Linked DNA regions of Homo sapiens. The protein of the gene in region 3 interacts with the protein of the main gene of each other region in a biochemical or structural test. Each region holds a gene or a part of one and is shown on either strand. Other genes may lie near its edges.

Region 1 (3,724 bases), on a different chromosome or scaffold from region 3:
TGATGTTCAGCCATTCTTTTGTTAATGGAATACACTGGTAAACCTTCATTCCAATCTATTAGCTTTTTAAATACTCTGTGAGATTGAGTTAGTTAGTACGTTATTTACAAATTTTGCATTTATGTTCGTAAGTAAAATAAACTTTTAATTCTTCCCTCCTATACTTTTTCTGATTTTGACATCAAGGTTGTACTAATCTCATAAAATGACTCGGGCAAGATTTTTTTCACTTTACACATTCTGAAGCAACTTATATATGATATTCCACATTTGCCTGAACTCATTCATAAAACCATTCTTCCCCTTCTTTTGATATACTCAGTGTTGGAAAGTGTCTCACCTTCCTGCCTTATTCCCTGCCTTGTTAACATTTTTGTCATTTTTATTCTTCCCAGAGATGTGAGTAAGGGAGCAACCCTTGGTGGCCCCCTGAGCTTGTCTCTGCAAAGTGACTTTTCCAGGCAGAGATGCCGCAGAAACAGACGGGTCTGGTTTGGCCTCTCTGGCCTGCCAGGCAGCAGCTGCACGGGAACCCCAGGGTGGCCTAAGTGATTTAGGATGAGGATCACACCTCGGCTGCCCCCTGAGGCTTTTGGGGCACTACCTTTACCTTTCTGAGTGTTCTGGAGCAAACCCCTGCCTTTCTGACCCTCAGTTTTGTCAGCTATCTCCCCAAGCTCAAAATTCTATAGGGAGAAGGGGAACTATAGCTCGAGGTTACTGCTGGAGTCGGCTTATCTAGACTCCCTCCCACCTCACCTTCCCTGCAGAGGACCTGTCAGACGAGGCTGAAAGGGACGAGTATGAGTTACTCTGCCCAGACAACACTCGGAAGCCAGTGGACAAGTTCAAAGACTGCCATCTGGCCCGGGTCCCTTCTCATGCCGTTGTGGCACGAAGTGTGAATGGCAAGGAGGATGCCATCTGGAATCTTCTCCGCCAGGCACAGGTATCTTCACCCACGGTCCTCCCCACTTGCTTGGATATGGGGGGCAGGGAGCAAGGTTTCTTACTTCCCTGACTTCTGCCACTCCAGAAGTCCTGTAGCTTTGCTGCAGGATAGCACACTAATGCATTGGGCTGCTTGCCCAGGCTGTACTGTGGACAGCAGAAGCAATGAAACTCTTCTGTCACACGGGCTGACAGCGTCTTATGATGGGAGCAGAAGCAGGGGGTGGTCGATGCAATCTTCTCAGGGCCCTAAGGTGCTTGGACCTCAGCAACTCTTCAAAGAATGAGCCATAGCTGAGCTTGGGTCTCCGAGATGGCACAAGTCCCTCTGCAGGAGGGTCTCAACCGAGGCTCCTGCTCTCAGTTAGAATGATCCCAAAGCTCCAGATACTCTTTTTTAACATCATTTTTTTGTTTCCTCCCTATTTACCATTGACACCATAATTCTATTTTTTCTTAATTAGGAAAAGTTTGGAAAGGACAAGTCACCGAAATTCCAGCTCTTTGGCTCCCCTAGTGGGCAGAAAGATCTGCTGTTCAAGGACTCTGCCATTGGGTTTTCGAGGGTGCCCCCGAGGATAGATTCTGGGCTGTACCTTGGCTCCGGCTACTTCACTGCCATCCAGAACTTGAGGAAAAGTGAGTGAGCCCAGGAGGGTCCTGAGGTCCGCCTGGTGTGGTCTTCTACTTCCCAGCAGGTGGCCCTACTTTGTGGCGGTCACTCCTTTTCCCAGACACTGTGGGGTCATCGTGGAGGTTTGATGCAGGTGTGAGTGTCTTCTGTGGATTAGGTCAGGTGTCTCTAAAAGAATAGTCTGGCCACCTGATCAGTGCACGTCAGGCTCCCCAGGCCTGGCAGAAAAATCAGTTTGCCTCCTATTAAGTGAGAAACATGAACATGAACAAAGATAGCCAGGACCCCTCCTGGATGAATCCGGGGGCCTGGATTTACCCACACTTCCCAGGCCCAGACCTTGAACTTAGTTGGGGACACCATGGTGGGGGAACTCAGCTATGGCTCCTTCTCTACTGGGGGGCTGGGGGTGGGAGTCTGGGGGAACCCAGAGGCTGCACCGTAGTTATTGGTGGTGATTGCAGGCGTTAGGGGAAGTCAGGGTTGGGCTCAAGGTCCCCTAGGCCATCTCTTGGGACTGTCACTGGTCTCTGGGTCATGGAGCGTTTATCCTCAGAGACAGAGACAATAGGCGCCTCCTGACTCTAAAGATTAATGGATAGATTAGAAGCCAGGGAACTTCTCCAAAGGAACAGAAGTGGGAAACACAGGGAGCTCTGTGGACCTGAAGAAGGGGCTTGGAGCTGAGAAGTGGAGGAGGAGAGGGTATGGGTCCACATGTCCACACATGTACTGTAGCTCCTGTTCCAGGGAGAGTCTGGGCAGGACCCTGGCTCTGGGGAGGTTGGACAACCTGGCAAAGCTCAGGTTGCCCAGCCACCTGCGGTCTTCCCTCTGGCAGGTGAGGAGGAAGTGGCTGCCCGGCGTGCGCGGGTCGTGTGGTGTGCGGTGGGCGAGCAGGAGCTGCGCAAGTGTAACCAGTGGAGTGGCTTGAGCGAAGGCAGCGTGACCTGCTCCTCGGCCTCCACCACAGAGGACTGCATCGCCCTGGTGCTGGTAGGGAGCTCCATCACAGGGGCGGGCGGTGGGCCCGGTGGAAGACCTAGGGCCTGGGCATCTGCTTAAAGTGAAGTCAACAGTCAAAGAGGCCACGGGGGCCTGGGTGAGGCAGGGATGCCTGGAGAGGTGTGCTCAGGGCCAGAAAGCATTTTAGTTTCAAAAAGCAGTTTACTGTGGGTTTCCCACTCCTCTGGTTATAAGAACAACTCAGGATTATTATAAGGAATTTGGAAAATATGGAAAGGTATTATGTTAAAACAAAACAACAACAAACCCCCCAAACCACCTGTGATCTCACACAGAGGGACAGACATGGTTAAAGTCTGGCTAATTCTCCATTCCAGTATTTCTCTGCACATCTGCAGATATGCATGCAACAATAATGAAGTGTTGCAGTATGTCGTTTTTAAGCCCTTTTCACTAAACAGCGTATAATGGGCATTCTTCCACATGAATATTTACTCTTGGAAAGCATTAATTTTTTTTTTTTTAAGAGACAGATTCTTGATCTGTCACCCAGGCTGGAGTGCAGTGGTGCGACCACATCTCACTGCAGCCTGGAACTCTTGGGCTCAAGTGATCCTCCCATCTCAGCTTCCCAAGTAGCTGGGGCTACAGGCATACGCCACCACACCTGCATAATTATTATTATTATTATTGTAGCGACAGGGTCTCGCTTTGTTGCCCAGGCTCGTCTCGAACTCCTGGGCTCAAGCAATCTTCCTGCTTCGGCCTCCCAAAGTGCTGGGATTACGGGTGTGAGCCACAGCACTCGGACGAAAACATTTTTTAAACATGCTTCCAGGATATCTTTTATGTGAATATGGCTCAGTTTAGTCATGCCCCCATTCCTCTTTGTCCCTTACTTTGCTATTATCAATAACCCTGTGGTGAGCATTCTTGAGTAGAAATCTTTGTCCACTTCTCTATTTTTAATATAGTTGTAAAAATATTACTGGGTCAAAGAGGAAGTTTCATACTACTGATGAGTCCATGATCCTGTGTTGTAGCCTGGACTTGTTCATTCTGGTGGTGGGCCAATATGACGACTTCAGCTTATGTGTTGGACAACTTCTGTGTAGCGCTTGGAGTGGAGTGCTAATGAGTTCAGATTAGATGAGGCCAGCTGTTCCCATCTGT
Region 2 (3,724 bases), on a different chromosome or scaffold from region 3:
AGGCACTCTCTGCCTAACTGAATACCCAAATTCCACACTCCGAGAAGGAAAGCAGGGGTTCAGCATAAACCACATTGTTTGTACAGTTCAGGCACAGTGAGCCACTCTCATCAATTCTGAGAAGAGTGGAACCCCCCTGAAATCTAAGTCCCCAGATACCAGCCCAAGGCCAACCTTGCCAGCAGGCCTTTCTGAGGATATGGTCGCAGGCCTGCCGTGTTAGCTGTTTTCTATACAACAATGAAACACCCCAAACATCACCCCCAGGGAACAGCTCTTATGAAGATAACCCATAACATGAGCAATGTGTCCTTGACACCAGCAGGACATTTCTAGTCCCTACTATCCCCAAGGGCTCATTCCAGCATGGCACTGGAGTGCTCAACGTCATGGCTGCCACCACAGGCAGGAAGGACAGCGTGGCAGGCAGGGGTGGAAGAGTCCAGGTTCAAATCCTTTCTCTGCCACGTCCCAGTCTTGGCCTCAGTGTCTTCTTCTTTAAAATGGGCACAGGAATCTATTCCCTTCCCAGCCCACTCCTCAAAGGCTGTTGTGAGGAACAATTGCAAGACCCCTTACAAACTGTAAAAGACCTCTGCAGAGGGACTTGAGGACTCAGGCAGGGTGTGCTGTCCTTAGGCATCTCCTCTAAAGCTCCCTGCATGCATGAGAGCCTCCTCTGGCCTTGGGTGAGAGGCACCAGGGACCATGACTACAGCCCTCACTCTGGGGAGCCAAGCACATACTCTTACTGTTGCCAGAGCCGCCACACTGCCAGAGGAACCAGGGCTTTCCTTTCTGCCTGCCTTTCACAAGAATGATGTGGCTTGCAGGAGGGAGGATGGCTTCTAGCTAGCCCAGTCTGTGAATGTGGAAGCTTCATCCCCCTATAGCTCTTCCTTGCTGATACTTGTTTCCTTCTGCTTGTGCCAGCAATAGCCCTAGAATTGCACAAATCCAACCATCCAAGGGCTAACCAGCAGGTAAGACAGTCACCCAGATGCACATGGTCACAGGAGGCAGTACTGTGGGGTGAGCAAAAACAGTACCAGAGGGAGACTCAAATGCCCAGGGGTCTCGCTGCCAACCACTTGAGCTTGGGCAAGTTGCTAATCATTTCCTTTTTATCTGCAAATGAAGATGATGACCGCAGCCTCGCATCCTTGGGGTGAAGGGAGAAAATGGATGTGACTGTGTTATTAACTGTGTGGATCTGTACAAATGAAAGGGATCAATATTATTATTATAGTGTGTGGTGATTTGTCCCCCTACCTCGTCAATTATATCGATCATTGATGGCTGGAATGAAAAAATCTTCCCAAATCCCTCTGAGATTTCTTTAAAGTTAATGGTGCTAGGGAAAGAAAGGATATCAAGTCATTCCCCAGGACCCCATCTGCTTGTATTAAAAAGCACATAACCAAAGATTTTAATAATCAACACACTGAACAGCCCTGATAATTTATGCTAATAGTCACGTTATGATGTGGAACAAGAAACAGCTTAATCCTGCTCCCTGCAGCCTCTGCCTCAGATCTCCTCCCTCAGCATGAAAGGGTTTTGAGCACAAACCCCCTTCTTTGTCCCTCTCACGAAGTGGCATGCGCTGCCTCTCCTGGTTACCTGGTAACACACACTAGCACAGACCTAGGTTTCTAAGTGGAGCTGGAATTTCAACCAAGGTGAATTTTCTAAGATTCAGGGTCTCAGGAGCTCACCGAAGCTGCCAGGGCTCAATGCCCTGGCGGGTGCTGGCCGGGACCCTGTTCCTATCTAATTTATCATTTGAAACATGACATTAACTTGCTGTCCGTAGGACCCCAACCCTCTCCCAATGCTAACAAATAGGGTGCACACACTGAACTATCCAGCCTTTAAAGTAATGAGAGCAATAATAATCATCATAATACTAAGGCCATACCACCTTACCAGTGAGAAGCTGAACCAATAATTCAGAATGTATCGAAGACCCACGTATGAATAATTCTTACTGTTGGAAATTGCTTTTGCATCCTTCTTCTTCCTTCTCCTCCTCCCCCTCCTCCTCCTCCTCCTCCTCCTCCTCCTTCTTCTTCTTCTTTTTAGACAGGGTCTCACTCTGTCTCCTAGGCGGAGTACAGTGGCATGATCATAGCTCACTGTAGCCTCGAACTCCTGGGCTCAAGAAATCCTCCTGCCTCAGCCTCCCAAGTAGCTGGGACTACAGGCACATGCCATCATGTCCAGCTAGTTTTTAGAATTTTTTGTAGAGATGGGATCTTGCTGCGTTGCCCAGGCTATCCTTGAACTCCTGGCCTCAAGCAATCCTTCCACCTCAGCCTCCCAAAGTGCAGAATGAAGCTTCCCCCTTCGGCCTTGCACCCAAGGCTTGCAGTGGCCTACCCCAAACTACTCTGGGGTGTCATCTCCTTTCCCAACCATCCTACCAGGCCTCGGCCCTATGGGCCCACTTGCACACCCACCAAAGGGCTCCCACCTCTGAGCCTCAGTTCATGCTGTGCCTCCCCCTTGCTAGCATTGGGATTCTCTCCCCATCCTTCAAGGCTTCTCTCAGGAGCTATAGCCCAGTGCTAAATAGAGGGACAAGTGACAAACCTTGGGAAAAACAGGAAGGTGGACCCAGATTGAGAAACCCCCAAGATTCAAGGCTGGCGGGTGCACAGCACCTTACTGATCAGGTTGCTAGCGGCTAGCTGTGCAGCGCCCATCTGAAAATAGCGAGGCAGGCCAGGCATGGTGGCGCACGCCTGTAATCCCAGCACTTTGGGAGGCCGAGGCGGGCAGATCATGAGGTAGGAGATCAAGACCATCCTGACTAACACAGTGAAACCCCGTCTCTACTAAAAGTACAAAAAACAAAATTAGCCAGGCGTGGTGGTGGGCGCCTGTAGTCCCAGCTACTCTGGAGGCTGAGGCAGGAGAATGGCGTGAACCCAGGAGGTGGAGCTTGCAGTGAGCCAAGATCACACCACTGCACTCCAGCCTGGGTGACAGAGTGAGACTCTGTCTCAAAACAAAACAAAACAAAACAGCCAGGCAAACCTACACTGGAGCCCTTTCACAGCTGGGACCAGCCAGGTGGCTCCAGGGAATTTCCTTCCATGTGCCTCAGCTTTCCCTTCTATCAAATGGGAAGGAGACCTCCCCAGGACACTTGTAAAAATCATGTAAAAAGATGGGTGCAGCCCAGGGATGGTATCTCATGTCTGTAATTTCAGCACTTTGGGAGGCTGAGGTGGGAGGAGTGCTTGAGGCCAGGAGTTCAAGAACAGCCTGGGAAACACAGTAAGATCCTGTCTCTACAAAAAATTCTAAAAATCAGCTGGGCATGATGGTATGTGCCTATAGTCCCAGCTACTTGGGAGGCTGAGGCAGGAGGATTCCTTGAGCCCAGGATCACAGTGGGCTGTGATCAAGCCATTGTATTCCACCTGGGAGATACAGTGAGACCCTGTCTCAAAAAAAAAAAAAAAAAAAAAGGATGCAAAAGCAATTTCCAACAGTAAGAATTATTCATATGTGAGTCTTCCATACATGTGTGCGGATCAAAGGATCACTCTCATTATGTGGCAGTTTGGGGCATTTCAGGGCATAGGAGGAAAGGGCAGAATTTAAGCCTGAAAACTGCTTCCCCAGGCTCCTCAGAGGCATGTATAAGGGCCCTTCACACACTGTGAACAACATAATAAATACTTCCCGAGGCCTCATTCCATGAAATCTAGGT
Region 3 (3,500 bases):
CCCGGGAGCTTTTTTTTGGTCCCTCCTTCTCCTACTCCTCCCACCCCCAGTTCATCTGCAGTCTCTCGATGCACCCCAAGAGGGTGTTGCATCCATCCAAGGTGACAAGCCTCTCAGAAGACTGTCAGACCTACCAATCTACATTTCAATGTGTCATAAATATTCAGGGACCCCTCCCCACCTTTTGGGGATCTGAACTAACTGCTTGAACTCTGGTCTGCAGAGATCATCAGTGCAGAGGGGCTGTGGTGCACCCTCCCCTCCCAGTTACAGGCTGGTTAAGTGTTTCTGCCCACCCCCGTTTCCACCCATGCCCAAACCCCACCCTGTAATGCCTGGGGAAGGAGCCCCTCCCACTCGGGTTCCCAGCTTCAGCACCAGGGCTGCGATTTCATTAAAATCCACTTTGCTTCAAGTGCAGGAAGGCGGTACACCATCTGTCCAGGCAGGCAGCCCCTCGTCTCAGGCACTCCATCAACTGGGACAGTCGCTCCCCTCCCAGAGGAAGCCCTCCCCCACAGCAGCAGGGACACTGGAGCTCGTCCTGGCTCCTGCTCCTGGCTCCCTGGTGTGGGCAGGCCACCCTCCCCGTGGCCCCCATCCCCCATCTCAGGCCCCCTCAATCCACCAGCCTGATCTGGCCTCCAGGGCAGCCCAAAAGGCGAGCCTTTGTGCCCTTCCACCCAGAGTCTCTGGGGGCTGGCTCCTTTGTGGCGTGTTCTCCATCTCATTTGCATGTGGTTCATTAAATATAAACATGCATAAAAATCACCGCCCTGCCTCCTCGTCTTTGAGGGCCTCCTGGGAGTGTGTCTGATGGGTGTGTGCGCCTCTTTGTACATGTGTGCGGGGCTGTGTCTCCGTGTATGTGGTCTGAGTGTCTGTGTCTGGACGGGAATCCGTCCACTGCTGCGGCGGGTGTGTACCTCTGGTTCTGTGCAGGTAATCAATCACACACATCCCCACGTAGGTACAGCCCTTATAAACAGTACCTTGGGGCCCTGGGGGTGGGAGGTGGGGGCAAGTGTCCCAGCTGGTGTTCCCATCAGGCTTGGTGAGAGGATCCCCAGGGAGCACTGGGAGGTGGGCCTTCCCGGCCTCAGGCCAAAGGCTGTGTTTGGCCAAGGGAGGTAAGTAAGCCCAGGGACTTGGGGGAGGGGGCCGAGGTGCTGCTGGAGCCCCTCTACTGCCTCTAGCCCTCCACCTCCAGGAAGGCAACTGGATGCCATGAGCCCAGGGAGTGGAGAGGGCACCCAGGCTCCCGGGTCAGCTGTCTACATCCCCCAGGCCCTGCTCCTTCGAAGATGGGGAGCTGCCAGCCTCCTCTTCACTCCAGCTGGATAGGAGTTCCCAGTCCCCCAGGGACCTGGGGTGGGGACTAATGGCTCTGCTGACTACAGATGCCTCCTCATTAAGGAACAAATCCTTTTGTGCTTCTAGCCCCATCCTGGGCTCCCTGGAGGCACCCAGTGCTAGGAGCTGGCCTGAGGAAATATACAAGGGAAAGGGCTGCCTCTTATCAGGGCGCTGGGGATGGAGAAAGTCTGGCTTCCACTGCCTGACTCCCTCCTCCTCCCCTCAGCACTAAGCAGCCACAGCACAGTTGGACATGGTGCTAGAGCTGGAAGGGTCACAGGTATGGAGCCAGTCTGATATCCGTCACTGTGCATAGTGCGACTGACTCCTAAGGGTCCCCTGGATGCACTTAAGCCCACCTCCTGCTCACATTTCCCTTCCGTCAGAGCAGCACCTTGCTGTACCTCTCGATCAGCTTGACTTGGTTACAGTTCTGCTAAACATTTAATTTGAAGGGTAGCTTTGCCTTTAAGAGTAATTGAAAACCATGAATCTGAAGCTAATCTCTTTATTTTAGGAAAGGGAAACTGAGGCCAGGCTCTCTGCTGGGATGTCCCTTAGTTTTCCAGCAAGTTTCTCACTCTCCAAGGCCAGGTAACTGCAGAGTGGACTGCATGCTGGACTAGCTTCTTCTCACGGTGTGGAGGAAAGGTAATGAGCTCTAGGGAAGGCTCTTCACCCCCACCCCTGGGAGCCCAGCTGGCTGCACAGGTGTGGTCCAGGAAGGGCAGGTGCAAGAGGGAGGGTGTGGTCCTCTTCATCTGAGGCTCCTCCTTCCCTCCCTTCCTTATACCCTCTCTCAACTCTTTGGTCAGTCCTGCATATTCCTTAGGCGTCCTAGGATTTCTGTGAGACCCTGGGCAGGCAGCATCCTCTCAGCCACAAATGAAGGGAGTGGATGAGTCGCTCTTCAGGGCCCCTCCAGCCCTGCCTCCTCATCTGTCTTCATGAACAGGATCCACAATCTCTGGGCCAGCAAACTCAGCTTAGCTGGAGTCTCCTAAAATCTTCCACACACATCTGGTTCATAAGCAATAGTATTTTTTCTTTTTTTTTTCTTTTGAGACAGGATCTCACACTGTCACCCAAGCTGATGTGCAGTGGTATGATCCTAGCTCACTGCAGCCTTGACCTCTCAGGCTCAGGTGATCCTCCCGCCTCAGCCTCCTGAGGAGCTGGGACCACAAGCGCGCACCACCACGCCCAGCTAATTTTTTAATTTCTTTTTTCTTTTTCTTTTTGAGACGGAATCTTGCTCTGTCACCCAGGCTGGAGTGCAATGGCATGATCTCAGCTCACCGCAAGCTCCGCCTCCCAGGCTTAAGCAACTCTCCTGCCTCAGCCTCCCGAGTAGCTGGTACTACAGATGCACGCCACCATGCCCAGCTAATTTTTGTATTTTTAGTAGAGATGGGCTTTCACCATGTTAGTCAGGCTGGTCTCAAACTCCTGACCTCGTGATCCGCCCGCCTTGGCTTCCCAAAGTGCTGGGATTCCAGGCGTGAGCTACTGTGCCTGGCCAATTTTTGTATTTCTTATAGAGACAGGGTCTCCCTACGTTGCCCGGACTGGCACAGCATTTTTTTCTTTAGGAAGTTTGAGGAAAAGGGATGTTGAGGCCATTTCGGCCCCCTCTAGTTTCTCAGGGTGGAACATGTTTGATTCACAAGTGTGTTTATGCCCTGGCTTGTGCCAGCAGGCCACAGAGCCGGGTGGACTGTCCCTCATTATGTCTCTCTAGGGAGAGGGTCCCTGAGCAAACATGAGGAAGTGGGGCTGAGGGCCGGACTTCAGGGCACCCTGAGATCTGAACAAGTCACCCTGCAGGCCACTGTGTTGCTGATGACAGTACAGACCAGCTAGTGTATTAGCATTGAGTATTTATGTCTGGTGTTGGTGGTATTGTGTCTGTGGCTGGTGCACGTGACAGTGGTGCTGTGACTTTGGCTCTTGATGCTTTACACTCCTGCGGATATCTGTTGGTCTGGTAGGGACAGTTTTGGGTCCCTCACTTCAAGTTGGGTGATGGGAAGGGGGTGATGGGCAATGGTCTTCCAGGTGTGAGGGCCAGAGAAAGCGACAGGGAGGACAAAGTCCTGCTTGGCAGTAGGTGGGGAGAAAGGAAGAAGGCACCTTTGTCCACA

What was found.
Region 1: the proteins of IGDCC3 (region 3) and LTF interact in a biophysical measurement, tested with the Homo sapiens proteins (one large-scale study listed by IntAct).
Region 2: the proteins of IGDCC3 (region 3) and IGFBPL1 interact in a biophysical measurement, tested with the Homo sapiens proteins (one large-scale study listed by IntAct).

Annotation. Positions count from the first base shown.
Region 1 is NC_000003.12:46,447,720-46,451,443, reverse strand, and holds part of LTF (lactotransferrin isoform 1 preproprotein), read left to right. Parts: intron 1-770; coding exon 771-949; intron 950-1,415; coding exon 1,416-1,590; intron 1,591-2,426; coding exon 2,427-2,581; intron 2,582-3,724. UniProt on the Homo sapiens protein: Transferrins are iron binding transport proteins which can bind two Fe(3+) ions in association with the binding of an anion, usually bicarbonate. Lactoferricin binds to the bacterial surface and is crucial for the bactericidal functions.
Region 2 is NC_000009.12:38,417,827-38,421,550, forward strand, and holds part of IGFBPL1 (insulin-like growth factor-binding protein-like 1 precursor), read right to left. Parts: intron 1,355-3,724; coding exon of another isoform or gene 1,290-1,354; exon of another isoform or gene 1,273-1,289; intron 1-1,272. UniProt on the Homo sapiens protein: IGF-binding proteins prolong the half-life of IGFs and have been shown to either inhibit or stimulate the growth promoting effects of the IGFs in cell culture. They alter the interaction of IGFs with their cell surface receptors.
Region 3 is NC_000015.10:65,336,503-65,340,002, forward strand, and holds part of IGDCC3 (immunoglobulin superfamily DCC subclass member 3 precursor), read right to left. Parts: intron 1-3,500.